Regions from separate parts of the Homo sapiens genome. Here regions 1, 2, 3, 4 and 6 are each reported to be linked to region 5. Evidence: microRNA targets listed by miRTarBase, many of them from high-throughput screens and not tested one by one. Region 5 holds a microRNA gene; each other region holds the end of a gene's coding sequence.
Evidence for each region. The annotated mature microRNA hsa-miR-26a-5p reads UUCAAGUAAUCCAGGAUAGGCU and lies in region 5 at 1,310-1,331, shown strand. An mRNA with a match to its seed (bases 2 to 7 or 8) in the 3' UTR can be bound and repressed. Matches are read on the target gene's strand: a 7mer-m8 pairs with bases 2 to 8, a 7mer-A1 pairs with bases 2 to 7 and ends in A, and an 8mer does both.

Region 1 (5,089 bases), not on the chromosome of region 5:
CCTGCCTGTAATCCCAACACTTTGGGAGGCCAAGGTGGGTGGATCACCTGAGGTCAGGAGTTCGAGACCAGCCTGGCCAACATGGTGAAACCCCATCTCTACTAAAAATACAAAAATTAGGTCAGGCATGGTGGCTCACGCCTGTAATCCCAGCACTTTGGGAGACTGAAGCAGGCGGATCATGAGGTCAAGAGATGGAGACCATCCTGGCCAACATGGTGAAACCCTGTCTCTACTAAAAATACAAAAATGGCTGGGCACGGTGGCTCATGCCTGTAATCCCAGCACTTTGGGAGGCCGAGGTGGGTGGATCACGTTAGGTCGGGAGTTCAAGACTAGCCTGACCAACATGGAGAAACCCCATCTCTACTAAAAATACAAAATTAGCTGGGCATGGTGGCACATGGCTGTAATCCCAGCTACTTCAGGAAGCTGAGGCAGGAGAATCACTTGAACCCAGGAGGTGAGGTTGCCGTGAGCCGAGATCGCGCCAGTGCACTCCAGCCTGGGCAATAAGAGTGAAACTCCGTCTCAAAAAAAAAAAAAACACTAAAATTAGCTGTGCATGGTGGCGCGCGCCTGTAGTCCCAGCTACTCAGGAGACTGAGGCAGGAGAATCGCTTGAACCCAGGAGGCAGAGGTTGCAGTGAGCCGAGATGGTGCCACTGCACTCCAGCCTGAATGACAGAGTGAAACTCCGTCTCAAAAAAAAAAAAAAAAAAAAAAAAAAAACACAGAAACTCTGGCAGCCATCACAGTGTGATTATTTGTTTATTTCATTAAATGTTTAACGAGGCTACATTGTTTCCCAAACCAATGTCTAATTTGTGAAGGAAACAGCGCAGAGAAGGAAGCTGGGTGACTCCTGCATCTGGGGTGGGGAAGGGAGTAAGGTCCCCTCCCTCCATCCTACAGAGGCCTTTGAGGATCAGCAACAGTCCCATTCCCTCCTCCCACCCACTGAGCTCCTCAGCCCAGAGCCCTCCTCCCCAGAAATAAAACGTCTGGCAACCCAGACCTGCAGAAAGGGACCAAAAATCCATTCCTGGTGGTATTGAAAATGTATTAAACTTTGGGGGGTCCTCCAGCTGATTGATTTTTCTAATTATGTTTGCTTTAGATGGATATTTAAATGCATTTGCATTCCCTGAGCTCACATGGCAGGATATGGAGGTTGGAGGAAAGAGGGGGCACAAACACTCCACACTCTGCACTTTGGTGGTTGCAGGCTTGAACCTGCTATACACTGAGAAGTCCAAAGTGGAAAAGAGAAGCCACTCAGCTAAAAATCGCAAGTCGATTTTTATGGCAGGTCCTTGTGGGGAAAGGGTCAGTCCTCAGAGACAGATGGAGATCCACCTAGCTGGGCCTGGAGCCCCTGCCCTCTCCTGTACCCTTAGCCGAGGACTCAGGGTCTTTGAGTCAGTCCCTAACCAGGTCTCAGTTTGAGGGGGTGGTTATCCAAGCACACTTAGATAATTTCAAATGCCATTGAAGTTATCCTAGAATCTTTGAGACTGGCTGAGATGAACTAGTCCCATAGGAGAGGTTGGGATAGGGATATCTGATGATCCAGGGAGTGGTGGGTAGGGATTCCTTTCCTCTCAAGACTGGAACCTGGCATAAGGGAAAGGAGAAGCTATTTTTTATTTTTTATTTTTTAATTTTTTTTAGAGACAGGGTCTCACTCTGACACTCAGGCTGGAAGACAATGGCATGATCATAGCTCACTGCAGTCTCTAACTCCTGGCCTCAAGCGATCCTCCCAGCTTGGCCTCCCAAAGGAGGAATCTTGGCTGGGATTATAGGTGTGAGCCACTGCCGAGAAGCTATTATTTTAAATGACACACCTCAGAGCCAAATCTCCCAGCTCCAACACCACATCCAGATAACCATCTATCCAAAAAACAACTCTGATCACTTCACTCTCTGCCTGAAATTCCTGGTGGCTTCATCCTCTGAGGATGATTTCATTCATCCTCAGAATGAAATTCTGATTCCTCTGTGGACCCTGCAGTAGCCTCAGTGTACCTTCCTAGCCTTGTCTTCTATTCTCCCTGCCATGGGAGCCCCAACAGTGCTATGCTCATTCTCATCTCCACGTGTTTACACATGCTGTACCCTCTGCCCAGAGTGCCTTTCCTACCCCTTCCCTGCCCGGAAAACTCCTCTTCAACCCTCAGGACCTGGCTCACAGGACTGGCTTCTCAGGCTGCAAGGAGCTCCCATAGCATCCCATACATGTACAAATATCCCTCAGCCATGGCACCCTCACACCTGAGGTACCTCTCTTCCACACTGGGCTGGCCTCCAAAAGCTTAGAGACTGGTCCTTGCAATCTCCCAAGCCAGTGTATGCCACACAGTTGGTGTTCAGTACATACTTGCTGAATGAATGAATGAGGGAGGAATGGGCTATAAATTTGGGTGGGATCCCAGCAGATAGTTGGGTAAGGTCAGTGTTCTCTTCCAGTGTGTCTGGGAGAACTGGCTAGGGCTGGGGGAGGGAAGGGCCAGGGATGGTTCCTGGGGGAGAATGTCACCGAAAAGAGGCCAGTGGGACCAGAGCCAGGAAGGGAATACAGGACAATCTGAAACCAGACTCCCGAGAAAACAGACCAGTACTGTCTTTCCTGACAACAGGCGCTCAGCCGTCCTCTCCACCGTCTTTCCTTTAAGGGACAGGGTAGGGGTGACTCTAACAGCTGATGCTCCCCTGAAAGCCATCATGAAACTCAGCATGGGAGGAGAGAAAGGTCCCTGGCCTGAGCCTCTAAGGAGACCCCAGAATCAAACTACTGACCTCTTAGGAAACTTCACGCTGTACAGGGGTAGCTTCTGTGATGTGGAGGCTTTTGATGCCTTCTTTTTTTTTTTTTTTTTTTTTTTTGGAGACAGAGTCTTGCTCTGTCATCCAGGCTAGAATGCAGTGGCGCAATCTCGGCTCACTGCAAGCTCCGCCTCCCAGGTTCACCCGGGTTCACACCATTCTCCTGCCTCAGCCTCCCGAGCAGCTGGGACTACAGGCACTGCCACCGCGCCTGGCTAATTTTTTGTATTTTTAGTAGAGATGGGGTTTCACCGTGTTAGCCAGGATGGTCTCGATCTCCTGAACTTGTGATCCGCCCACCTCGGCCTCCCAAAGTGCTGGGATTACAGGCGTGAGCCAGCGCGCCCGGCCTGATGCCTCCTTATCCCCACAACCCCCAGGGTACCAGCAGGCTCCAAGCCAGGGGTACAGATGGTGAGCAGGACCCCTCCCACACTAGCAGCAGGCCTGGCTGGGCTGAGAAATGCTGACTAATTATATGTCGGTCTGCTCTAAAACCCCCTAATGGCCTGAGAATTGCCCACTTCATTAACTAGGATGAACAGTCCCAGGATGTCTCCTTCTCCCAACTCTGACTCCTAAAAGGACACTTCTGATCCAACCTATGGCTTTGTCCTCTGCTCTATCTGTGGACATGGACAGGAAAGTTCCCCAGCTGAGGTCTAACTTTCCCTCTTACTGCTAAAGATTGGTAGATTGATTTTTTTAAAAAGCAACAAAACTAAAGCCACAGCCGTTTTCCATGGAGGTGGGCTTTATTAGGTGACTGTTGAGGCAAGGGAGGTTCTAGGGCTGGTGGACTGATGGGGGGCAAGGGCTTCTCCTTGCTTTTGAATTTAGTGCATGTTGCCTAGAGGTTAGATGTGTGAGAATAGCTGCAGAAGTGAGAGGAGAGGAAAAGAGAAGGTCATAGAATGGACATTTTCCTTGGGCCAGAACCAGGATATGGGGACTGGGGGTGGAGAGGGAGGGTACTCTTCACATAGGAGACTCCACCAAGGTCACCATTTGATACCAGCTTCCCTAACGCCCACCTGCCCCATCCCAGTTCATGCCCCAGATGCCAGCCCTGTTAGCTCCCTCAACATCCACTGGAGAAGAGGAGGGAGGAGGAGATGAGAAACGATGATACCCTTCTGCCCTCCAGCTCCCCTGCCCAGAATTGCTCGCTCTGCCTGCCCTAACTTCCCAGCCAGGATCAGGAGGTCAGGAAGCCTGGGCGCAGGCAGGGGAACAATTGTGTCCCTCACCACCCCTCTTCACACTCTGCCCTCTCCTAGCCCCTCACATGAGGTTGCAGCTTTTGGCTCGATCCTTGTGTATCTCGCCCTCATTCCCCCGGTCTGGCCGTCCTGACAGCTGAGCGGATCGCTGCATTCCCCGGCGTGAGTCAGTTCGGCGCAGCTGCCTATGGCCACGGCCAAGGGAGGCCACTGTAGCCACATGGAAGACATCCCTGACGCTGCGCTCAGAGGACCGGGAGGAGCACTCAACATAGGACACAGCCCCCACCTGCTTGGCCAGCACAGTGCCCTGGAAAAGGAAGGAGTGCATGGGAGAAAGTTATAGGTCTTAGCCTGCAGCTTAGAAAGGGGCATGGAGGCTGTGGGCTGGGGTTGAATGTCAAGGCTGGGGGCAGTCAAGGGATCAGGTCAGAGGTCACAGACCAGAACAAAGGATGAGCCAGGTAAGGTGTTTTCAAATCAGAGACTGAAGGGGCAGAGGTGACAGGTCTAGGCTGGGATGAGGTCAGACGTCAAGGGTCCCACCTGCTCATGTGTAACAGGGATAAGCCTCTGCTTGGACAGCTCCCTCAGTGTGGCCAGGTCAGTCCGCATGTCCAGTTTACAGCCAACCAGCACAACCTTGGCATTGGGGCAGAACTCTTGAGTCTCTCCTTGCCACTATGTAGGAGAAGAAAAGAGAATTGTGGAGGGGTGGAGGGAGGCACAGCGTGAGCCTTTGTGCCATGCCAGCAGTGTGCCCTCTCTTCCTCAAGCACGCAGAAACCATGTATCCCTCAGGACTCTCCCACATGAGGAAGGAGGTGAGAATGCTAGGCTTGGTTTGAGAGCAGGATGGGGTGAGAGAGAAGCAGCGGGGAGGAGAGGGCTGGCGTGGGCCTGTGGACTCTTCTCCCTCAGTGGCTATGAAGGGTCTGCCAGCCTGGAAACTTCCCATTCCCACTCGCCTTTCCCATACTCTCTCCTGGGAACAAATTTATCCCACCCTCCCCTCCCCCACCTGGGAACTGGGGCTG
Region 2 (5,000 bases), not on the chromosome of region 5:
GGTTATTTCAATTAGAGAGCAGGAGAAGGGAAAGTATGTCTTAATTAGACCAAACTGATTTGAACATGACACTTTTTTTTTTTTTTTTTTTTAAACATAAGCTGACAGTGGGGAAAACAGCACTATATACCTTTTGGACTTTCGTATTTCAACTATTCTTGATATTGCTCCTTTTTTTTAGGAAGAAGAAGAAGAAGAAGAAAACAGGATGTCTGAAGAAGCAGAAAAACAATATCAACAGAATAAATTGCAGACTGATTCCATTGTTCAGACAGATCAACCAGAGACAGTGATATCCAGCTCATTTGTGAATGTCAATTTTGAAATGGAGGGAGACAGTGAAGTAATTATGGAAAGCAAGCAAAATCCAGTCTCTGTCCCACCATAAAATGAAATGACTATCAAGCTTCAAACTCTTAAGTTTTTTTTTTTTAATACAAAAACTTTCACATTCTTTATTCAGTGGGACTTAATACAATTATTTATATTTTAAATTATTAAAGTATCTGGAAAGGGAAAATGTTTTCTTCATTTTTAGGATCTATCTAGCAAAAGCCAGATCTGAAATTCAGATATTTGTACTGTTTTTACTGTGTATAGAAATTAGTGCTTTGGTTTTAAAATGATCTTTTAAAAAAGTTAAGGACATCCTAGAGCCTTAATAGTTAAGAAGAGTTAAATTATCAAGCCTATTTGTGCATTTGCTTTTTTTGAAAAAGGTAAGTTGCTGATTAAGTCTAATTGGAATTGATAATTCCATAGTCTTAGATTAAAATGAGGATATTTTCTCCTAGATTTTCTCATGTTATGCCATGCATTTATATATCTAACCATTAATTTCACACTAAGGATGCTTCACCATATAATAAAAGGAGCAAGATGGAAGCACTTTGAATTTTCTTTCATTGAGAATAACTGTTTTATGTAAGAATCTGTATTTATAACACCAGATATTAAGATAGGCTTCCATTTTTTAATGCAAGCCACTTACTTAATCTTGTATTCTTTTTCAGGACTCAAATAACTAGCTTTGAACATAATATTAAAACACTACTTATAGAATAGATTTATTAATGTTAATACCTAGTGAATATCCATGTGGCATCCTGGTTATGTTATCGGTTCAGCGTTAATCCTATAGAAAAGTGGTTTGGAGGGGATTGGGGGATAGTGGGACAGGTATAGATTTAATCCATCAGGAGCAATTAGATATTGTATAAGGTGCAATGATAGCCTAATGAAATTACCCGTCATTCATCATTTAGAAGTAGCAACAGTGAAGACTGGACAGTTTACTTGAATCTGGTTGGCCACTCCTCTACCTACTTGGTTATTTGTAAACCTTACAAATGTATATATTGTGAAGCTAATTTTGAAAATATTCCTAAATATGGCCAGGTACGGTGCTCACACCTGTAATCCCAGCACTTTGGGAGGCTGAAGTGGGCAGATTACTTGAGGTCAGGAGTTTGAGACCAGCCTGGCCAACGTAGTGAAACCCCGTCTCTACAAAAATACAAAAATTAGCCAGGCGTGGTGGTGCACGTCTGTAATCCCAGCTGCTCGGGAGGCTGAGGCAGGAGAATCACTTGAACCAGGGAGGTGGAGGTTGCAGTGAGCCAAGATTGCACCACTGCACTCCAGCCTGGGCGACAGAGTGAGACTCCATCTTGGGGGGAAAAAAGTATATATATATACACACACACAGACACACACACACACACATATATCTCTAAATGTGTGTATAGAACCTTTTATCAGTATAACATTGATTTATAATTAAATGTGGGTGAGGAAGAATGTGTGGAGTGTTTCAGAAATTTTGATCTTAAAAGCCTTTTCAGAAACTCAAAGCTTTCAGAAATTAATAGTTATATTAATAGCCTTCTAAACAGCATTAAGTTTTCAATTTTAATATATCTATATAAAATATAGTGTCAAAGAAAGTAACATCAATATAGTGGGTCTGTAATGGAAATCTGTCAATGAACATGAACTGAGTTCTTCAACTACAGGTTGAAGGATAATTAAACTTTTCATTAGGAGTGTTCAGCTACATGGATTCATGGAATGGTGGTTCATAGTAAGTGATGGTAATCTTTTTATTCATGGGTGTAAACCCTTTATAACTTAGTGCTTAAAATATTAATCTTTTGATTATATAATGTCCCATGAATTATAGTTTACCAATAGTTCTAAAACATGCTAACCTGACCTTTTCCTTCTAATTTGTTTTTAACTTCATTCGAGATAGTACCTCTCACTCACAGATATTTATTTGGTTATCAAGTGAAGATAGGTGTGTCTAAAAGTGATCTTCTGAATCCTGTCTCCCTAGAGGTACTAGTATCTAGAGTTTACCCAGAAAATTTTATGATTGTAACAAAAGGAAGTAGTGACTTATGAAGGTTTTGTTTCTTGAATTTTACTTTTGCTACTTGTCCAATAGTGGCTAGTTTATGTTTATCAATATAGTTATTCACTGTGCCTTAAGTTTATACTTTGTTTATGCAAACTATAAAATTTCCCATAAATGTATTCAATGGTTTGTCTTACTTTAAGCCTCTTTCACTCACTTTTTCCTATCTCCTTTTCAGTCCTTTTAAGAATTCCAGTTCCAGCTGGGCACGGTGGCCCACGCCTGTAGTCCCAGCACTTTGGGAGGCCAAGGTGGGCGGATCACTAGGTCAGGAGTCCGAGACCAACCTGGCCAACATGGTGAATTAGTAGAGATGGATTTCTACTAAAAATACAAAAATTAGCCGGGCATGGTAGCAGGTGCTTGTAATCCTAGCTGCTCGGGAGGCTGAGGCAGGAGAGTCACTTGAGCCTGGGAGGCGGAGGTTGCAGTGAATGGAGTTTGCACCATTGTACTCCAGCCTGGGCGACACAGCAAGACTCGTCTCCAAAAAAAAAAAAAAAAACAGAATTCCAGTTCCTTCTGGATCATAGTTCATATTTACCTTCTTCTAATCTTTCAGCATCTCATAAAAACTAAATGTAATGTATAACTGAAGTCTTTATCCTGAATTAACATAAATTCTTTAACAAAAATCCTTAACAAAATGAAGTTTGTTTTTTGGTTTGGGACAGGGTCTTACTGTGTTGCCCAGGCTGGAGTGCAATAGTGCAATCATGGCTCACTCCAGCCTCGACCTCCTGGGCTTAAGCAGTCCTTCCCTGTCAGCCTCCTAAGGATCTGGGACTACAGGCTCACACCACCATGCCCAGCTAATGTTTTTTATTTATTTTTTGTAGAGACTTGGTTTTGCCATGTTGTCCGGGCTTGGAATTAAGTTTTGTAAAATGTAACTCTGGTATTGGTTAATAAAACTAGACAATTTTTTTTTTTTTTTTTTTGAGATGATGGAGTCTCACTCTGTTGCCAGGCTGGAGTGCAGTGGCTCAATCTTGGCTCACTGCAAGCTCCGCCTCCCGGGTTCACGCCATTCTCCTGCCTCAGCCTCCTGAGTAGCTGGGACTACAGGCACCCTCCACCACGCCCAGCTAATTTTTTGTATTTTTAGTAGAGACGGGGTTTCACTGTGTTAGCCAGGATGGTCTCAATCTCCTGAACTCGTGATCCGCCCACCTCAGCCTCCCAAAGTGCTGGGATTACAGGCGTAAGCCACCGTGCCCAGCCAACAAATTTTTTATACCAATGATTTTCATGAAAGTAAAATACTAGTTTGAATACATTTTATTAAAACATCCAATTAAAAGAAAGAACAAGGCTGGGCACGTGGCTCACGTATCACTGTGAATCATGGTGGCTATAGTCCCAGCACTTTGGGAGGCCGAGGCAGGCGGATCACCTGAGGTCAGGAGTTCGAGACCAGCCTGGCCAACATGGCAAGACCCCCATCTCTACTAAAAATACAAAAATTAGCCAGGCATGGTGGTGCACACCTGAAGTCCCAGCTGCTTAGGAGGCTGAGGCAGGAGAATCGCTTGAAGCTAGGAGGTGGAGGCTGCAGTGAGCAGAGATCATGCCACTGCACTCCAGCCTGGGCAACAGACGGAGACTGTCTCAAGAGAAAAAAAAAAAAAACCGCAAAACAAAAAGGCTGGGCGTGGTGCCTCACACCTGTAATCCCAGTACTTTGGGAGGCCGAGGCGGGCAGATGACTTGAGGTCAGGAGTTTGAGACCAGCCTGGCCAACATGGTGAAACCCTGTCTCTGCTAAAATACAAAAATTAGCCAGGTGTGTTGGCAGGCGCCTATAATCCCAGCTACTCAGGAGGCCGAGGCAGGAGAATCACTTGACCCCCCCTAAAAAAAAATCCTAATCCTAACCCAGAAATAAAATGGCTCTACTCATGAATGGGAAAGTTTGTCATCTTTGAGATTTTATATATATAGACACACACACACACACATGTTGTGTGTATATATATATGCACTGTCAGTCAAATATTCACATTCTAAATGACTGTCAGAAATATTCCATGGAAACTTCATCTCTGAAGATTATACAGATTTAAACTGAACATCATCTACCTACAGCAAATCACACTTCCCATCTTTGAACTAAAAGGAACCAGAACTTACCCCACCTCCTAACAAGCAATATTTGGTCCTATTGCTTCTAAACTATTGCAACCAAAATTCCAGTAACCAAAACATTTGCTGTGTTCTCTAGGCATATCAAGTGTTTTATTTAGACCATTTCTGAGGATTTTGCTTTAAAGGCTTTACATGCAGCATTCAAGTATCTCATAATATAAGACAGTCTAGTCTTTCAGAGATCATGTATCATCAAGGTCTGCAGAGTTTTCACTGTCATTTGCAACAAGAGCCTCTCTGTTCTCGTAAGTCCAGAAGCCATTCAAATCGATTAGAATGGTGGTTACTGTGTCTCCTTGATTACTGTTGATTAAATCCTGAAGAGAGATTTTCAAAGGATCCTTTGGTTTTACCATGTCAAAGATTTCATCCTGCAAGAGAAAAAAAAATACAATGAAATTTGATCCACTTAATTTCTATCACACATAGTGAT
Region 3 (5,089 bases), not on the chromosome of region 5:
TATGCCAGAATAAATTAGTACAGCAACCTTTTGGGGGAAAAAGGCAGTAAAATACAATTTGAAATAATCAGTGGTGTTATAGAGCTCTCTTTGCTTAGATCATTGAGGACTAGTTCTTCCAATTTGAATTAAATGAATCCATTGGATTCTTATTTATTCTTAACTGAATGCACACTTTAAAGAGATACCCAAAGTGATTCATTAAATAATTTAAAATCACCTTTGTATTATATAGTGGCATGAGAAAGGAAATTAGGTGAAAATTCATGGGAATATTTTGTATATATTGGCAAATAACAACATAGCACCATTCTAGCAAATATGAAGAATAAACAAATAGTTACATTTTACGGTGGGAGAAACTAAAGTACATAGAGATTAATGGTTTACTGAAGACCAACTATATTGCTGTGGATATTAGTTGGAATAAAATAATGATTTTTGTCTTAGTTCTATAAACAAGTTGTATTATAGTTTTTGCAAGAACGTGTATGTAATTTTTGTCAGTGAAGTCAACATTGCTATTTTCTGCATTTAGGCCCTAAGACAGATATAAATATGTACATGTAAATAATCATAACAGAGAAAATAAGCATTTTGATAAAATATTTTATTAATAATAATAATATAATCATGGTTATAAAAATAACAACTTTATTAACTACAGAAAGTTTATAATACAAGTCATAACCACAGTGTTCCCTTTTTTGGGTAAGCATACAGCTATACCACTCAATAGGCAGCTTATTAATTTCCTATTTACATACAAGACAAACAGTCATAGCATCCACAGTATTTCATTTTCAGTTTCCTAAAGACAGAAACTTTCTGTGCAAATGGAAATGAACCTACTTAAAAGTTACACTGTCAAGATATATATGGTCCAAAAAATTTTAACTTTTTTTGTATTAGTAAATTCTTAGCTCCAACCTTAGTTGAATGTTGAATGATAACTTCTTTTTGGACTTTATCATGACAAGTGATTTATTTTAAAATTATGTATTTTAAAAACAAAGGCCATGTACTTTTACCAAAATTAGTTTTATTTTTTAAATGAGTTTGCCTATATGTATGGGATGTAATTAATTATAATAGTATTTTTTGAATCTCAATAAATTGATTTAAGGCTTTTTAGTATAAGATCTTATTAAAATTCTTTACCACATGATCTCTATATTGCAAAACCAGTATTTCTTTTAAAAAAGTTTAAAAACAACAATGAAATGCCTGACAGCAATTTCCCACTTCTTGACAGTGTTCTTTTCAAGAGAATGTTGTGGCTATAACATTCACTTTGTACAGTACCATTGGTACCAACAAGAAATATTCACAGGAATAAGTGAAATACAATTTTGCTATCACATGCCATTATTGTTAATTTTCTTGCCTTCCAGTGTCTCACACTTCCCATAATTTGAAACACTTAGATAGCAAGCAAAAGCCTGTTAATACTAGAAATTGACTCAATAGATTTTACTGAGGACCTGCCCACAGCATATAGGTAAAAGTCATTACACATTTTACAATAAAATTAAAGAAGTATACAAAAGGATTATCATTCCTTCTGCACGGCAGAGGCATTATGAAAAATATTTTAGTTTTACACTTCAATTCCTGGTAGACGTGAGAAAATGTCTACAATTATAACAGTACATAACCATTATTCAAACAGCCAAACCAAAAATTGCATTGAAACCTTCTGATTTAAAAGATCCTTTTGTCAATGACACAAAATAAAGTGGATTGTTGGATTTTTAAAAATGTTTAATGATTTATTCAGCAAAGAACACCTGGTAAATAGTGTCTTCCACCAGCAAATAATGACATGACTCTACCCTGTTCTACCACCTAAAATAACATGGACCTTGTTCATCTAAGTTTCATTGTCAATTCCACCCATGTCCCTCTATCACGAAAGGAGCCTCCCAAAGAGAGAATTACTTTGTACGGTTTGTTTGATGATTTATTGGTGGTATTGTTTTTAGCCTTTAATAAAATGAAAAATACTAGCCTCAAAATGTCTAAATACTTAGCTGTATCTTGTATCTAGCTAATCTTTATCTGTATTTCCAGGAAATTTAGAGGAAGAGTCATTAAAGAAGTATTTTTAAAATGTGAGTATTTAAAATTATGACAATTTTTATAAAAGTTTTACAAATATCATTAATATGCAATAATAAAATTTCACTGGTTCAGCCAGAAGAAACTATGAAATATACTTTATATTTTGGCAATATGCTCTTGAAATTTCTAGGAGTTCTTACTAAAATGGTGTATTATATAAGGAAAATAGAAATACCATCAGATAAGATGATAGAGACCAGCAACTAGTTGGATGTCTTTTTGCTTCCACTTTAAGTTTCTTGATGCCAGCACATATCTTATTATGAAAAAAAAATTGTATAAGCATTTCTGGACTCGCCGCCCTATATTCTGTGGACTAAGCTCTCCATAAACTTAAAACCATTTTAGTCCAGATTGAACAGTACTCTAAAGAGCTGGTAGGGAATTGTTTGGGGACTTGGCCTTGATAAAAATCACTCAAGAAAACTAAGTCAGAGAAATGGGACTACTGGATTCACACCATTCAAAAAATTATTTTTAAAGGTGTTTTGTACAGGAAGATTTCTGCAAAAATTCAAAGCCTATCCTATTACTTTTTGTTATTCTATTTCTCAACAAATACATGATCTTTAGCTAAGCATGACAAATACAATGATAAATATGATAATTTGGCTGTTATACAGAACACAAAATTTAAATGTCTGTTACATATGGCATTAGGAGTGAACTTTGTAAAATGAAATAAGAAAAAATAAACATATCTTGATAAAATATCTGATTCAACAGATTCCACTCTACTTCAAAAAAAAAATAAATGAATACAGAGTTGAGACAAACTAGTTTCTTTCCTTTTACAAGTTGTCTTTTACTTCAAAAAAGCTTTATTAGGCTAAAATCTTCCAGGTTGAGAAAAGTATTTTTATTTTTTTCTCCAATATATACTTTAATGCATGACTTGATGAAGGGTATTTATAAAACTTTGGAGACTTGGAAATTTTCCTCTTAAATTTTTTAAAATTTAAAGGCAGTGAGCTAGAAGCCAATCACAGCAGCAAGGCTTAGATTTAACCTATTTAAGTACATTTTTAATGACCAAAACACTTTTAAACTTCTTCAATTAGATACTGATCTGAGCACTTAAGAAATGCTTTAGGAAAATAGATCTACAAATATCTTGTGTAAATAAGTGGCCTTAAGTTTGGAGGAAACAAATTACACAAATAGAACTATTACCCTCTTTCCTTTAAGAATTAGAAACTACATGAAATAACTAGGATAATGAATACATGTAAACACCTAGATTAGGTGTTATTTAACTCTGGGTGATGGCCACACCTGAAATGCCAACCAAAGAAGATCATCTGCAGATTATGTATGGAGAATTAGCTAATCATTTTGATCTTGCATCATTTTTTAATATTTCTACTGGTCTTTAGAGATTTCTGGTTTTTTTGAGGTAAAACTATAGGTACATACTTCTAAAATATTTAGGGGTTACATTAGGTACACCATAATTTAAACTGTAGTGCATGCACATGTGTACCTAGGCATGTGTACATGGGTATGTGGTTTTGTAAAAAGTGTGTTCGTGTACCAGTATTGCAGGATACATGGTGAAGAGAAATGAATGAACTATAACATATAGCATATGAAATGTAATATAATTTAATATAGGGCTACAATTTAGGGACACAAGGTATAAATTGTTTTGGTGAGGTTAAAATAACATTTAATTTGTGGTTTACTCATTATTAAGAAACCAACATCAGAAAGCAGCTTAGACAGATTAATTGATTTTTTTTCCCATGAAATCTTTATCATCCAGCAAATATACCTGTGTGTTTTTTTAATCCATTCAAGTATCTTCAGGAGATATGTTATTACACTTGCATGTACCTTAATTCACTTCAACATTGACAAAATAACACTGACAAACAAAACAACAGAAAACACCCATAAACATTAATGAGAATTTCAACAAACATGACTCTCCAGTAGTTGTCTTAGGATTGTTGTAAGTGACATTTTAAATTCCACATTCTCTGAAATCTTCATGTAAAAGACAGTTGTATTGGTGGGTGCTTCAGACACACTTACTTCAGCTATGACTGTGGTACCTTATATGTTAAAATAATTTTGTGTATCCATTTTGCATAATATGCTACTCGGACAAAAATACCAGGACGATTTGGAATGGCACATCCACGACCAGGAACAATGACACCAAGAACCATTCTCATTTTATGTTGCTCACAAACAAGTGGGCCACCATAATCCCCCTAGGAGTAAGACATACAAAAACAAAGTATTATTAGGAATTAAAAAAAAGCTCATTAACATAATCATATATAGATTTGCATCTCAGAGATATATACAGAAAAAGAGAATAACTGCAACTGAAATATGAAGATATAAAAATTAGTGTACTAGACATTTGTTGACTTTCTACTGAATTAGCCAAGACTGAGATAAGTACAAAGTTTAAAGTGTTCTATTATGTGTGGTATTCTCCTAAAAATGACTTGCCTTTTCCAAAAGAGTCAACCATCCTTTTAAGTGTGCTTTGCCTTTGTTGGATGCAGACTAACATATAACCATCGGTGCCTATTTAATAAGGTAGATTTGATATTTATTTTGATCTTCTTATGTTCAATATAGGAAATTTGGAACATGTAGAAAAATACAAGTATAAAAGAAAATAACTTGTAATCATATAGTTTTAACAATTAAACTGCATTATATTTTTTCTTATTTCTAAAGCTTTTTTTTTTTGCCTCTCCCAATCCTGCCCTACATGATCTTAACAAGTTAAATAAAAAACTTGTTGTCAACAAAATAATTCTGTTAATTGAAATTGCTTTTCCAGGCAAGGAATATTCCTCCAGTTACTGCTGGTATTAGTAGTTAATATAGTTATAGTTATATTTTATACCCTCCTTTCTGTAGCGTGTCCTGTGATTTCATGGCATTTCTTATATGGTAAGCCTGTTGCATCATCAGATAGAGGAAAGATGAACAGATAGCT
Region 4 (5,089 bases), not on the chromosome of region 5:
GAGTAGCTGGGACTTCAGGTGCGCACCGCCTGGCCTGGCTAATTTTTTGTATTTTTAGTAGAGATGGGATTCTGGTCTCAAGCTCCTGGAGTTACGCAGTCCACCCTTCTCAGCCTCCCAAAGTGCTGGGATTACAGGCATGAGCCACTACACCCGGGCTACAATTTTGTTTTGTTTTTAATTTACAAGGTTCATGCCAACCTTCAGAAGCTATGGTTGAATTTGTGAGTTAGAAAAAAACCTGTTTTCAATTCTCTGAGTAAGAGTGGCTTTGGGATTAAGGGATATGAAAACTTCACTGATTACTCTCTTTACATTTCTTTCTTCCCCCAAATGATTTTGAGGCAGGGAAAGGTAGGGGATTGTTAAATATAATCTGGTTTGTCTAGGTGAGTCCAACAGAACAGAATATTAAGGTAGTTACAGTTAGGAAGGCTCCCAAATAATTGCACCAAGTAGATACAAATTTGGTTACTGGATTTGAGGGGCCAGATTGCCTAACTTCTTAGGATCTGTGATATTGATACAGAATTAGAGCAAAATCACTTAACTTGCTTGAGGATAAAATAATGTTGAGAATGGCGTTGGCATGAATGAGCTGCTGACAAGCTTGCTGTTGTTCCATTTTGTTCCATTTTGTCCCCTTTCAGTTGGTTACTGTATTTTCCCTTTCTTTGAAATGTAGTCATTCTTAACCCAGTAACCTTCCTATACAATCTGTACAGGTACATGAGCAATTTCAAATTTTATTTGGATTAAGTGTTTTTTATACTGAGGAACTAACTGTTCTTTCCATTTTATATCTAGCTTTTAGTATCACAGATCTACTTTTTGGATTTTTTTCCTCCCCTTTGATTGCAAAATGAATGGCAATATCATGCACTTTGTTGGGATTCTTTTTTAGTAGTATACAATGCATTCTCTTTGCTATGAGTAACCCCTGAAGCTGGAGATGGGTCCTAAATAAAGGATTCTAATTGCAGCTTTGGTTCTTCATCATACCTCCTTCCCCACATCAGCACGTGCAGAATTGAAAAGTTCAAACCTGACTGCCATTTGAAAAAGGGACATTGCAAATTTGTTTTCATTAACTTTGTTATCAATACATGTAGCCTGTGGTGTTAAAAATTTTAAAGGGAGAAAGAGGCAATTAGCATGAAATGTTCAAATGAATGGTTTGTGGTGCCTTTGACCATGCATATGTTGTTTTGGGAGGTCAGCTTGTTGGCTCTGTTGTAAGGTTTTAAATGGATTATCCTGTGAAAGAGATTGGGTATAGTGTTTCTCAGGTGTACAGAAGAAAAAAGTTATTAAACCTGACCATTCTGAGTCTCGCCTTACATTGTTTCAGGTATGATTAACAGTGTCAATTTAAAGCACTCAGCCACATAGCAGGATGAAAAAGTTAATGTAAAACTAATCCACCAAATAGAAAAATTTAATGTGGTTCTACTTTGAAGCAGAAATGGACTTGAGGGAAACTATTAAGCAAATTGAAGGACATTGCTCCTAGGTGAAACAATCCAAGTAATGTGGTAATTAGTACAGATTGTACTCCATACTGAGGCTTCAAGTACCATGTCTTAAAAGATGAGTGAGATACATGTGTCATAAGGACTTAACTTCATTTAGCCCCATCCACCCAACCAAACAAGTACCAAGAGGTGGTAGTTTTTACAAAGTCATTGTCCTTGCCTCTTTCAAATGAGATGGGTTGCTCCTCAGAAGAAAGTAGTTTTGTTTAATCAAAGTGATTGAGGATATCTGTACTCCCAAACTTTGCATAGGATTTAAAATACCATCTAGGCCGGGCACGGTGGCTCAGGCTTGTAATCCCAGCACTTTGGGAGGCCGAGGCAGGTGGATCATGAGGTCAGGAGGAGTTTAAGACCAGCCTAGCCAACACAGTGAAACCCCATCTCTACTAAAAATACAAAAATTAGCTGGGCATGGTGGCGAGCGCCTGTAATCCCAGCTACCCAGGAGGCTGAGGCAGGAGAATCGTTTGAACCCAGGAGGCAGAGGTGGCAGTGAGCCAAAATTGCACCACTGCACTCCAGTCTGGGCGACAGAGCTAGACTCCGTCTCAAAAAAAAAAAAAAAAAAAAAAAAAAAGTTTGGTACTGTTTGTTTTTGAGCTAGGGCTTTTAAAGAGGTGGTATGTCAGGATCAACAAGTTAGATCTTGGTCTCTGAGGGTGCTGATAAATACCTAGGTTGGTTTATCCCTGCCCCCCGCACGCCCCCCATAACCTCATTCCCTTGATTGATTATAATGTATACTGAGGTAACTTTATTTAATAATTTTACATTCTGTTAAATTTTTTTTTTTTTTTTGAGAGGAAGAAGTCTCACTCTGTCACCAGGCTGGAGTGCAGTAGCGCGATCTTGGCTCACTGCAACCTCCGCCTCCTTGGTTCAAGCGATTCTCCTACCTCAGCCTCCCAAGCAGCTGGGACTACAGGGGCATGCCACCACGCCTGGCTAATTTCTTTTTGTATTTTTAGCAGAGACAGGGTTTCACTGTGTTAGCCAGGATGGTTGATCTTCTGACCTCGTGATCTGCCCGCCCTGGCCTCCCAAAGTGCTGGGATTACAGGCGTGAACCACTGTGCCCGGCAACATATTCTGTTAATATATTTAAAAAGCATTACCACTTATGACTGGAAAGAAAAAAAAAGTTCTCTCCAGAAGTATCTGTCTTGTCTTTTCCCCTCCCAGAATGAGTATTTTTGCTTTTACCTTAATGTTTGAGGGGGGAAATGAGTACATATGAGATCCCAATAAGAAACCAATACAAAAAGTTTATACTGAGCTAAAAAAAAAAAAAAAAAGATACCTTGACTATGAAATTTTAAGGTTATTTTTATTTACAACTTTTGAAAAATGTACATTTTTTTTTACATGGGTTACTTGTGCAAAGTTAGATTTGGAAGTGATAAATGCATAAAAGGTGACAATAGAACATTAGACAAAACATTTACAAGCCTTGTCCCATACTGCTACTTAAAGGTACTATATATCTAAAAGTATAAATATCCAAAAAAAGATCGCAGACATTGGCTTTAAGGTTCTCAGATGCTGAAAGGGAAGAAATTAAAGCATGCAGCAATAACTCAGGATTTGAGTGGAAAATAGTTTGCCACAGATATGCTATGCTCCCTTCCTTGAATTCATTAAAACTCTAAAATAAAGATGGACAATTGAGTTTATTCACTTAGGGCAGCACTGATCCTTTAAAAAGATTAAAGGAGCTCCAACTTTCCCTAGCTCAAAAACTCACGATTGTTTCCATTCCTCTGCTCCCACACCTCTTTTAAAAAGCAAAAACCCAGAAGACCAATAATTCTGAAACTTGGCATGAGTGTGCCCAGTCAGCAGCTTGCAAAGAGAGGATGTGTCAGTTACTACAATTGCTGTACTCCTTTAGCTGAGTCCTTCAACTTTCTCCTTCTTGCCAGTAAATACTACGTTGTAATTCATATGACTGAGATCTTAGTATCACAGGATTTTTAGCTCCCATGCCTCCTTCAAAATTGTTTACATGGATTTGTTTCTATTCTCTGTAGGCCATATTCCAAACACATTCACTTCTAAATCCAACACAAGTGAAGGACCAGCCAGGATGAAACACTTCAGCAATCATTTTGTTAAAAATAACATCCTGGTCATCAAGCTAAGCATAAGCACCTCTTGTATAACAATTCATCTTAAAAGCTTAAAGTACAATAATAAAAATAACTGCCTGAAAACTGGAAATGAAATACAACAGAAAAACTGAAGCATTAGTAATTTTTGCAAGTAACCCAGGTACAGTACATTTGATTTCATAGAGGGTGTTTTCTGATGTTTAAGGAGAGGGTAGAAGGGGTAGGAAAACTTGGCAAGGAAGATGGAAACAGCACAACAGTTATTTTGCTTTTAATAAAGTAAATGTAATGACAGGAGTAGGGAGGTGACAAACACATCAATATATATTTTTCTTATGGCCAGCTTCTTTAAACTGTACCCGGGGTCAACAATCACGCCAGCTTTGTTCTACTATTGCAGAAACACGCTTTTCATATTCCCGTTTGTTCTCCTGGTACAGCTGAGCAGCCTGGCTGTTTGCTGGACTATTGGGATTGGGTTCATCCAACAGAGACTAAAGAGACAATTTTTAAAATGTCAGTTCCTTAATGCAAAACAACTATTTTATAAGGTAGTGACACTCAATTGAATTGTCCTAAGTACAGCTACATTTCTTGTCTTTAGCATACAAACCCAGAGTTATGTGAATCTGCTAGTAGCTAGGAAAATATATGCGGCTTTTTTTTTTTTTAAGGGAGAAGAGTCTCACTATGTTGCCCAGGCTGGTCTCAAACTCCTGAACTCAAGCAATCCTCCCACCTTGGCCTGCCAAAGTGCTGAGGTTACAGGTGTGAGCGACTGTACCCAGCTGACTTGGGTCTTAATGGTCTACTTTTCATCTATAAAACAAACAAGCTTTGACCAAAAATAAAAAGATCTATTACATTATGACTTTCAAAAACAATTCAATTGCTAATATAAACATATTAAAAGTTATAGTTCGTCACATTAAGGAAAAATTCACCTGTATGGATGTTAGAATGGAAGACACATCATAGGTTGGACTCCAACGGTTCTGAAGTATGTCCAGACATATACTACCATCTGCATAGACTAAGAACAAAGAAGTAGGTACATTAAACGTAACAAGACCACTAAGGTTTTAACATTATAGACAAAACAAAAATAGTCAAGAATACTTTGCTTTTGAAGTTTAAAGATTCCTATGTTGCTTCCCAGTTAACTGCCTAAAAAGATAAGTCATAACCACCACTAGTGAAATAATCAGGATGATCAGAGAATGTCAGATGTGATCAGTATAAAACTGGAAGATATTTAGTGTTCATCCTTTGGAAAAGGCTGCCCTATTATCCAGGAAATCAGAAACATTTTTGAACAGGGTCCCTAGCTATCCACAGACATGTGGGAAATTCATTCCACCAAATTTGTAGGCTGTATCCCCTATCTGAAATAACAAAAGATCACTCAGAGTTCACAAGATTTCATTTTGGCATAAAGAT
Region 5 (5,089 bases):
CAAGTTCAAATAGTTCTTTGATTTGAATTTCAGAAGTTTCCGTATCCCCCACTGGCCTAGCTTGATGGTCTAATTAACTTCCTTGTGTAATTGCTTTCGGCTACTCTCCTAGCAGGCAACAGGAAAATGCCACAAGTCACCCACTTATGGTGGACTCTCGGGAAAAAGTGTCCATTTTCAATGCCAGCTGCTCCAGACTGATCTTATCATTCCTGCATCGTTTTCTCCAGAGAATCTTTAGCAAATACCCACCCCAAAAGAAAAAGGGGGAAGGGTGTGAGTTTTCGGATCCGCAGGCTGCTATGAATAAAGATGCCGTAGTCAGTTGGCATGCGTCTTCGTTGCTTCTGATTTTTTTTCCTTATCTGCATAAAGCTCTTCCGGAAATAACTTCATTTATGAACAAATTGGGAATGTTGTAGGAAAACTAGCTTTAGAGGTTGAAGCTGGGGGGCTTTTGTCAGATTTTCCACAGGGATGATCTAACCATCTTCCTTGTCAAGTCCAAGGTCTTAAAGGGAGCGTATCTGGCCTGATATCCCAGGAAGGAGACTTTCCTGGTACTTGAGCCACAACGGGATGTCTTTTCTTAGCAATGTCAGTAGTCTTTGGTTCTTGAGTGCAAGGTGTCAGAACTGGAGAAAGCTTGGGAATCAGCTGGTCCAGCTGCCTCATTGTCTAGATGGAGAAACTGAGGCTCCGCCAGGGAAGGGGTTGGTTAAAGGTCATACGATGGGAAGAATTAAAATGAAAATTCCAGTCTCCTGCCTCCTGGCCCAGGGCTCTTTTCCTGATACGCAAGTCCCTTCCCTCCCATGTCCTTGCTTTCTTGCTTATTCTCCAGGACATCCTGCCAGGAAACAGTCCCGGGGAGAGGCAGCTTTTTTCCTAGTGTTTCCACACTTCATGCTTTTAAAAGCCATCACAGAGCCAAAACGGCAGGCACTTGGGCATTTAACATTTGCAAAAGCATCAACTGAATTAACTCAGCATCTGAGAAGCAGTTAAGGCTTCTGCATTTATCATCTTGGCTTGTGTTACATAGTGCTCATGATGAGACAAAGGAGAGGCTGCCCAATGGCATAGCAAGAATTAGGAGAGAAATTAATCCTTTGTACCACGTGACTGTAAGCATGACTGGCCTGCCCACTGCTGACCCATTCTTGCAGGAGCTCCCCCACCCTCCATCCTGGCTGTGCTGTGATATCACAAGGTCCCAGGGCTGGGGTCAGAAATTCTCTCCCGAGGGAATGAAGCCACAGGAGCCAAGAGCAGGAGGACCAAGGCCCTGGCGAAGGCCGTGGCCTCGTTCAAGTAATCCAGGATAGGCTGTGCAGGTCCCAATGGGCCTATTCTTGGTTACTTGCACGGGGACGCGGGCCTGGACGCCGGCATCCGGGCTCAGGACCCCCCTCTCTGCCAGAGGCACCAACACCAGAGTTCACAAATCAGTCTCCTGCCCTTTGCATGTAGCAAAGCTTGCTTTCCAAGCAGGACTCCCAGGGTGACTGAGGACTACAGGCCACACCCGTTTGCTGGCAACGAGGAGTCTTGTGGGCAAAGTGGGAGTCTGCAGCTGTTGCAGCCACAGGCCCTGCCCTCAGCCCTACCCCAGCCTCCCAGCTCCTCAGAGCTGTGTTGGCACCCGTGCTACGACATCCTGTTCCTCCAGCCCCTCGCTCCACCCTCAGCCACAAATCCATGTCCACCTCCTTCTTTCAGTCACCCATGAATTTCCCACTGAGTCCTGGCCCTCCTGAGCTCCTGCTTCTGGCACCTTGAAAATGACTTGGTTCTGTATAGAATTCCTCGGCCAGCAGCACACCCAGCATGTGGTGCAGAGCCCTCATCTCCCCTCTGCTGCTCCTCCTGCCATTCTCACCTGCTCCATCTGCCATTCAAGGCCCTAATGTGCCCACTGTGACCTGCCTCTCACTTCATCTTCAGCCACTTCCTCTCCCAGACCCTGCTGCTCCGGCTTCTCTCACTACCTCTGATGGCTGGGCACACAGCCTGGCTACTCTCTAGCTTCTCAAGTATTCTCAGGCCTCGGGTCTCACCCTCTACTGTTTCCTCTGCCTGAAAGCCCACTTCTTCTCAACCTTATTGGCCTGGTGAACTCCTTCAAGGTCCAGGCCAAATGTTATCTTCTATGATCCCCTCCCCTTGTGAGGGGAGTTAATTGTCCTTAATTTATCCCTCTACTACAACTTTCATTATGCCATGTTTATTTTTATATGTTTTTGCCTATGTCTGTTCTAGAGTATGAGCTCTTCAAGGGCAAGGCCTGTGTTTTATTCATCTTTGCAACTACATCAGGCTGAGCTCAGAGCTGAGGCTCAGTAAACATGCTGAATTGAATTTTAAAGAGTTTGATTTATTTTAGTGAAGTGGCTAATTTCAAACGGAATTTATTCAAGTTTGAATTAGTTCTTCCCTCCTCCCACTTCCTCTGTCTTCTCTCACCAGCTTTGCCTTCTCTCCCATCTCCCTTGTTTCCCCAGATTCATTCAGGCTCCCTAATCAAGAACCTATGTATGGTCTGAAGCCTGGCCTCCTCACTGCTACCCCCTGGCCTGGCCTGGTCAAAAGGGTGCACAGAGCCCAGCCATTCTAGAAAAGGCTACTCTTTGCACCCCTCTGCTCAGAGACCCCTCCTGATGGATTATGTCTGGGGTCCAGGAATAGCGATGGTTTCACATCCCCTGAAACATACCAAGCCCACCCTTTATGGTGTCATAGACAGCTTCCCAAGCTGACAAGGAAGCCCCTTCTTGCAGCTTTGCTGGGCCTGTGCTTCAACCCCAGACCTTCCTAGTAAGGGGGATGTCCATCCAGAACAGAAGGTGGCAGCCGGAGCAATCCCAGACCTGCTGGGCAATATGCTGGGCCTGGACCTCTGAAAGGACAACACCCAGACCGTGGCCCGTGCCCACACAGGTCCTGACCCTCAGCAGGTGCCAAGAAACACACGTGAAATGAATGAGTCATTACACACAAACATGGTACAACCCTTCCATTTGCTGGCCCTGAATATCCCCAAGACCCTCACACCATGGTCAGCTTCTCTTTTTCCCTTAGGAGGGGCGTCTGCAGTGAACTCAGACCTGGAGCCCTGTCTGAGGAGTGCCACGTCTGACTCCATAGCCCCTCATACAGTCTAGGCCTCTGCCTGCTATGCATAGACCTGGGGGAGGGAGGCAGGAACCTTTGTAGCAATTCTTCCTACAGTGGGCATTTGGGCCCCAGGCCATCCCCAGCAACTGCCACATCTGACCAGCCTGCTGTCTCCTGCCATTGCAGGTGTATGTGCTGAAGCGGCCACATGTGGACGAGTTCCTCCAGAGGATGGGGCAGCTTTTTGAATGTGTGCTCTTTACTGCCAGCTTGGCCAAGGTGAGTCCTGCTTCCCAGCCCCACACTCCCAGCCTGGTACTCCCAGCCCCTCCACCCCTACCCCCAATCTGTCAAGCAGCCCTTTGTTTTGGTGGGGGAAGCCATTTCTATGGTGACAGGTTCCCACCCCAGATGGGATGGATGCAGGCCATGTGCATGGTGCCAGTCTGAAAGCCTTCTGGGTTACCATGGTGACAGGGAGCACTTAGAACAAATGCTCCATGAAGTTGCTGTGTGCAGCCACCTGAAGCTGGGTGTCCACAGTCCAGAGAATCACAAACAGGTCCAGTGTAATGGACAAAGGATGGTGTACCCCTCAACCATTGACTGTCAGCCAACTGCTAGAGGCCCCTGTGTCCTTGGGTTTTGCTTTCACAGATTTGAGGGAGAAGCAAGTGAGAGATAAGTGTTGGACACTCACCCACATGCTTGGGCTGAATGAGAGTTCCAACTGCCCTAATGAGCTGTATGATCTGAGGCAAGTTACTTCACTTCTCATGTCAGTTTCTTCTATAAATTGGGGATAATTCCAGCTACCTTGTGGCTAGATCACATGAAATAACATATGTAAAGGACTTAGCACAGTGTCTGGCTCACATACAGCAAGTATTCATTGAGCACTTGCTGTGTTCCACATACTGTGCTGGGCATTGTCACATGATAAGCACTCCTGATGTTCATTATTTTGTGTTACAATTATTTGTTGATGATGATAGGCCGGGCGCGGTTGCTCATGCCTGTAATCCCAACACTTTGGGAGGCCAAGGAGGGCGTATCACCTGAGGTCAGGAGTTCAAGACCAACCTGGCCAACATGGTGAAATCCCGTCTCAAAATACAAAAATTAACTGGGCATGGTGGCGGGCATCTGTAATCCCAGCTACTCGGGAGGCTGAGGCACGAGAATTGCTTGAACCCAGAAGGCAGAGGTTGCAGTGAGCCAAGATCATGCCACTGCACTCCACCCTGGGCGACAGTGACTCCGTCTCAAAAATATATATACATATATTTATTGGTGATGATAAAATCATTCAGACATATCTTGATCCTAAAGCTTGATATGAATCTGACCTAAAATCTACACTGGCTCTGATCAAATAGAATGGTTTCTTTGTCCTCTCCACTGTTTAAGGAAACTAGCAGGTTCCCAAGCCTCCCAGTATGGTTTAGTCTCCCCCTTCACAGGTGTGGCAGGGTGCCTGTGCTGTGTGGGGCAGGCAGGGTAGGCCTTGCTTCTCCCAGGAGATCTTTGCCTTGACCATTTCCCAAACTCTGACTCTGATGGGGCTGACACCATCCATTTGTTGGTAGCACCACAGTTGTCTCCATGGGCATCTCAGGGACCCTGAGTGGTCCCAAAGATGAGTTTTCTGGGGCCCAGGTTAACCATTTGCCTGTCTCCAGGACATCACACAGTAGCTTCCTCCGCCATGTCCTGCTTCTGGACGGTGCCCTGATGCCCATACTCCCTTCTCTTCCTCTGCATGTTCCACTGCTTTGCTGGCCTGGCCATTGCTGGTTGGGTCCATCTCTGTGATGATTGAGGGGCGGGAGAGCCCCACTTGCACAAATGCTGCCAGACTTATCACCAGGCCTTAGAGCATGAACCAGTGGAGTGGGATTCAAAATCCTCGTCCTTATTTTTGCATTTCAAAAAGAGAACAAGGCCTCAGGGAAAATAGAGTCTTCCCCAG
Region 6 (5,089 bases), not on the chromosome of region 5:
GCGGGTTCCGATAACTCCAGCTACTGAGGAGGCTGAGGCAGGAAAATCGCGTGAACCTGGGAGGGGGAGGTTGCAGTGAGCCAAGATTGCACCGTTGTACTCCAGCCTAGGTGACAAGAGTGAGACTCCCACCTCAAAAAAAAAAAAAAAAAGCAGTTTTCTGTCCAAGTTAAGTCTTTTCCTGTTGTAGTCTAACTGGTCTCAGGATTTCTGAAATCTTAGGTCAGGAAGTGACCCGTTGCTTAAGCCCACCCTTTCTACACTCATACCACAGACACAAGCCTGCCCTCTTCTCTGTGCTTGTAGCCTTCAGGAGAGAAAGCTCTTTGTCTGTGGCCTCCCTCTGAGAGAAGGAATCAGAAAGGGGCCTTAGTAGGAAAATCTAATGAACTCAAATAAGAGCTTCGTACCGTTAGTGGCTGCTGCTGCTTGAAATCCACTTGCATTTATGCTCTTACCATTAGCTTTCCTCTTCACATTCCAGGGTCAAGGCAAAGATAAAGATTTGAATTCTAAGTCAGCCAGTGACCTCTCAGAAGATCTGTTCAAAGTACACGATTTTGATGTGAAGATTGACTTACAAGTTCCCAGCTCAGGTATGTGAGGGTGGGGCGGGTGGTGAGGGCTGAGAACCAGATGGATCCATGGTTTTCTGGGGCAACAAGGAAGCCCACTTTTAGGGAAGAAAGGGGAATGCTGGCTCATCAGCATCCACAGGCCAGGCCAAGACAGGCTGTGGGTATGGTGAGAGGGAACAGGGCCACAGTCAGGAGGCTGCCTGCAGGAGTGTAGCACAGGACTAAGAGGACTTTGTGGGACCTCAGCTGCCAACTTGCTCTTCTTTCCCACAGAGTCAAAGGCTTTAGCCATCACCTCCAAGGCTCCGCCAGCCAAGGATGGGGCTCCAAGGAGATCTCTGAACTTGGAAGACTACAAAAAACGACGAGGGCTTATTTGAGCACACCCAGCCTGCTGCTTCTGACCCTGCATGCCCCATCGCAGCGTCCCACCTTTCCTCCTTTCCTTTGATTTAGCCTCTTTGGGCTGGAGCAGCTGTTGAACTGGGAAGAGACTCTAAACTGCCAGTCATCTGTAATATAAACCATTTGCTGTATAGACCTCCTTTGTCTGCACACCATCTCCCACCAGCCTCCCCTCCCCCAGGGCCCCACCCAGTGTGGGCCTGGGCTCTCTTGGGCTTTATCCATGTCTTTAGATTTGTGTTTGCCTTTTGTTTTTTTAACCGCGCAGTTCATTGGCCACTCTGCACGCATTCAGTATTACCATGGAGCTGGGAATCTTGCTGGAGCCCCTGGGGCAATAGCAGCAGCACCAGGCGGTCTCCTCTACAGACTGCCTTGGCCCACCCATTGAACATTCGGCACGTGACCTTGTGGGGGGAGCGGGGATTGGGCACCTGCGATCCTCTTTCCTCTCTTCATCTTTCTCTTCTGCCCTTCTTTTTGGAAGAAGGGGTTTCAAAACCAGTTTAGTTTCCAAAAAGTGTACATTTGTGGGGGGGGGGGGTCTAATTTGAGAGCGAGAGTGTGTATGTGTGTGTGTGTAAGTGTGTGGATTTTTTTATCATTTTTTTAAAATGCAGTACTCTTTGTATCAGTCTGTCATGGGTCTATAGCTGTTTCAGATTTTTTTCAGCTGTACTTGAGCATCTGAAACTGCAAGAAAGAAACTCATTAAATGTGATTCTTCTTACTAAACAGGCCTGACTGCTGTAGCTGTGTAACTTCCCCATTCCCACCTACTCTTCCCATCCTTTCCCAACTTTGGAGAAAACTCCCCAGTTTAGCCCCCTGACCTGCAGGCTGTGTCCTGGCAGGTGTGGGAGGGAAGCCCATGGCCAGGTACCAGGGAGGGCAGTGAATGTCTTGCTCTTCCCATGGGTACAGCCCACAGCTTCTTGGCTGAACGTAGAACTTCTTTTTCTCACCCAGTATACCAGCCTCTTCCTGGTGATTCTGTTTTGCTGCTTTGGCAAGAACTACATTTTGTTTTTAAGAGAAATTTCTGAATATGAATGTGGAGAGCAAACACAAAAAGATTTAGGTTACGCCGGGTGCAGTAGCTCACGCCTGTAATCCCAGCACTTTGGGAGGCCTAGGCGGGTGGATCACCTGAGGTCAGGAGTTCAAGACCAATCTGACTAACACGGTGAAACCCCATCTCTACTAAAACTACAAAACTTAGCCGGGCATGGTGGTGCGTGCCTGTAATCCCAGCTACTCGGGGGGCTGAGACAGGAGAATCCCTTGAACCTGGGAGGCGGAGGTTGTGGTGAGCCAAGATCGTGCCACTGCACTCCAGTCTGGGTGACAGAGTGAGACTCCGCCTCAAAAAGATTTAGGTTGCAAATGTTTCAAGCATGTGCAGTTTTGTGTGTGTGTATACATATATATGGTCAGCATATATATTGTGCAGCTAGGGCGAAGCCAGCAGAGGTGTGTGTATGTCTTTATGAAATGTTTGAAAAGAGATAAACTGACTGCTTGATAATCACTCTCAGGTGTAAAGCTCCAAGTGTAAATAAAAGTGGCATTTAACAAATCTTTCAGAACAAAGTACAGCTGACTATATATACCAAGAGCTAAGCTAAAGGAACAGCTGAGAGCTCCGATCTCCACGAGAGACTAATCTAAAAGCTCTGCTTTGTACTTCCTCACCCTGCTTTCGTACAAGGAAGGGGGACGATGGGAAATCATGGACTTGTAAGTTGTATTTAAACATAAAAATGAACTTGGTAACTTCTGGGTTTAGTAGAGCCTCAGTGTCGCTTTAACTTAGTTTACTTTTTTTTTATTTTTAAAGCAGCAATGGATGGTTTTAAAGGAGTATTATGATTGTAAAATTGCTAAATATGACTGTAACACAGCTTTGTGGTAGCTGTGACACAGTTCACTTGGGCAAAGGAGTGGTGATGGACTCGTTAAAATCATATATACTTGAATAGTCCATTGACCGAAACTCTTTATAGACTATTGTGTAAATGTGGAATCACAGACTGTTAACATTGCCTGGACTTCAGCAGAGTCCTGGAGCTGCTGGGACCTCTCCTATCATGATGAACTTGGACTTTTTTTTTTGATTTCTGGTTTTAAAAAACATAAAATTATAGAATCCAGATAATTCGCTGGAGTCATTCTGATCCACCATGTAGATCTGTATTTAGTATCATTTGGATTTGGAGAAGTGTTGATTACATTATGGCTGTGTAATAAAATTTTTATTAAAACTGCATCACACTGTAGCCACTTTGCCACCACCTCCCCACATGTAGCCGCTGAAACCCCCACGAGATGCCAATGCACACAGCAGGGAGAAAAGCCAACCAAAGAAGACCGAAGGGTATCTTTCCACCCGAGTAGCCTCTGTAGTGATTGGGACCAAGACTAAGGACTTGTCTCCAATCTCAGCTGAGGCAGTGCCTCTGAACCAAGATCTTGGTCAGGCATTAAGACACTGGCTTTGTCCTACCAACTAGGATTTCTTGGTGGTTCACACTATTTCTTGTGCTGGGGAATTCCCTCATTGGGCCCCTCCTCCCTCCACAGTGTGGTTTCAGTGTTGAAGGGTGCAGCACCCAAGGTTGTTTTTATGCATTTTTTCAGTTCCTTCCAAGAAGCAAAAAGGCCAGTGTCCATCTGCCTAGTTCATAATGTTTATAGGTCTGTTTGTCTGTCTTGCTTCTGGCAGGTGTAGGGAAAGTCTACTGCCTGCCACTCCCTTCAAAAAGAATGTTTTTGCTTTTGTGAAGTCCTGACTTGCCACTCAAACTGTACCAATATTGTAAATAAATGTTATGCCATTTTAACAAAGGGATCAGATTGAGTCTAAGGATTGCATCCTGAGTGGCAACTCCTAAAGCCATGTTTTGAAAGTCCAAGAGAACCTCTCTTGCTCCTTTTCCTTCTTCTCTTAGCCCTGTGCCCACAAAAGTGAAAGTGGCCATCGTCAACTCTTTAGCAGCCTGGTTCCCCGGAAGCCTCTCTGGTAGGGTAGTTGCCTAGACCCAAGGAAACCTCCAGTTGTCCTGGTTTACTTCCTGTCTTGGTAAGAGACCAATAAGTTTTAACAGAGCTAAGTAGACCCCTGATGTACTGCCTAACCCTAGTGAGAATCTGGGCCTTTCAACCTTTTTTTTTTTAGCTGGGGTCTCTGCTGTCTAGGCTGGAGTGCGGTGGTGTAATCACAGCTCACTGCAGCCTCAACCTCCCGGGCTCAAGTGATCCTCCCACCTCACCATTCCAAGTAGCTGGGACTACAGTCATGCACCATCACACCCAGCTAATTTTTAAATTTTCTGTTGAGACGGAATATTGCTATGTTGCCCAGGCTGGTCTTGAACTCCTGGCCTCGAGTGATCCTCCCGCCTCAGCCTCCCAAAATGCTGGGATTGCAGGCATGAGCCACTGTGCTCAGCTCCTTTCAACTTTAAATTGGCCTAGGCACAGTTTCTTTGCTCTTCTTTTTTCTGGCTATCATGAGTTTGAAGGGGGTGCCCAAGGGCCATGAGTGTGGCTATGGAGGAAACACTGATCTTCCTTCATCCACGCACCCCTCATGCTGGGGAGGTCTATAGGCCTCCCCATCCCCAGTGCCTGAGGCTGTGTCTCCAACCTTTCTGAACACATTTTAGCTAGGAAGCAAGAAGATCCTGGATCTTCCACACCCTTTAAGAAGGCAAGGGATGGCAATCACAGTGATAAGAGCCACGTCCAAGACCGCTTCTGGTGGTGGAGAGGTTGCTTACCTGCAAGTGCGTCCAATGAGGTTTTCTCCAACTCCCCAGCACTCCCACTACCTAACTGGTGGGAGCAGTGGGACCTAGAGAGCAGGGGTTCTGGGCAGATGACAACATAGCTTGCTTATCTTCCAGGATTTGGGTGCTGTGGGGCAGCCACTTGCTACCTATCTCTGAGAATCCAGAAAGAACACCTGGGGTGCAAGTGGAGAGAAGAAGGGTGCTGGGTTGGTCAACTTCATCTCCCTGGCCACGTTTTTCCAGAAGGGAGATCTTCCTTCAGTAACTATAATGTGGCTGTGATCCAGCAGCCTTAGGAAGCCATCAACTCCC

Region 1: the mRNA of RND2 is a reported target of hsa-miR-26a-5p. The part of its 3' UTR that is shown has no 7-base or 8-base seed match.
Region 2: the mRNA of FAM177A1 is a reported target of hsa-miR-26a-5p. Seed matches in the 3' UTR shown: 8mer at 1,294-1,301, 7mer-m8 at 1,453-1,459 and 7mer-A1 at 1,588-1,594.
Region 3: miRTarBase lists HGF as a target of hsa-miR-26a-5p. Seed matches in the 3' UTR shown: 8mer at 3,919-3,926.
Region 4: the mRNA of UBE2A is a reported target of hsa-miR-26a-5p. The part of its 3' UTR that is shown has no 7-base or 8-base seed match.
Region 6: the mRNA of RTF1 is a reported target of hsa-miR-26a-5p. Seed matches in the 3' UTR shown: 7mer-m8 at 1,660-1,666 and 8mer at 2,955-2,962.

Annotation. Positions count from the first base shown.
Region 1 is chr17:43,027,705-43,032,793 of GRCh38, reverse strand. RND2 (Rho family GTPase 2) reads right to left here. Exons shown (of 5, transcript NM_005440.5): 4 at 4,599-4,733; 5 at 753-4,362. The coding sequence ends at 4,114. Among named protein-coding and RNA genes, the nearest start is that of RND2, 5.0 kb to the right of the region's middle.
Region 2 is chr14:35,080,841-35,085,840 of GRCh38, forward strand. It overlaps FAM177A1 (family with sequence similarity 177 member A1), which reads left to right. Exons shown (of 5, transcript NM_173607.5): 5 at 182-2,538. The coding sequence ends at 388. PPP2R3C (protein phosphatase 2 regulatory subunit B''gamma) reads right to left here. Exons shown (of 13, transcript NM_017917.4): 13 at 4,632-4,938. The coding sequence ends at 4,750. LOC101927178 (a long non-coding RNA gene) reads left to right here and starts at 241. Exons shown (of 5, transcript NR_110415.1): 1 at 241-719.
Region 3 is chr7:81,698,415-81,703,503 of GRCh38, forward strand. It overlaps HGF (hepatocyte growth factor), which reads right to left. Exons shown (of 18, transcript NM_000601.6): 18 at 596-4,343. The coding sequence ends at 4,167. Among named protein-coding and RNA genes, the nearest start is that of HGF, 69 kb to the right of the region's middle.
Region 4 is chrX:119,582,181-119,587,269 of GRCh38, reverse strand. It overlaps UBE2A (ubiquitin conjugating enzyme E2 A), which reads right to left. Exons shown (of 6, transcript NM_003336.4): 5 at 4,594-4,682; 6 at 2,847-4,143. The coding sequence ends at 4,015. Among named protein-coding and RNA genes, the nearest start is that of UBE2A, 10 kb to the right of the region's middle.
Region 5 is chr3:37,968,104-37,973,192 of GRCh38, forward strand. MIR26A1 (microRNA 26a-1) reads left to right here and starts at 1,301; the gene lies at 1,301-1,377. It overlaps CTDSPL (CTD small phosphatase like), which reads left to right. Exons shown (of 8, transcript NM_001008392.2): 6 at 3,304-3,396. RefSeq lists enhancers at 971-1,534, 1,535-2,096.
Region 6 is chr15:41,479,730-41,484,818 of GRCh38, forward strand. RTF1 (RTF1 homolog, Paf1/RNA polymerase II complex component) reads left to right here. Exons shown (of 18, transcript NM_015138.5): 17 at 485-596; 18 at 852-3,834. The coding sequence ends at 958. LOC105370790 (a long non-coding RNA gene) reads right to left here. Exons shown (of 3, transcript XR_932169.3): 2 at 4,766-4,950. Among named protein-coding and RNA genes, the nearest start is that of ITPKA, 12 kb to the right of the region's middle. RefSeq lists an enhancer at 3,945-3,994.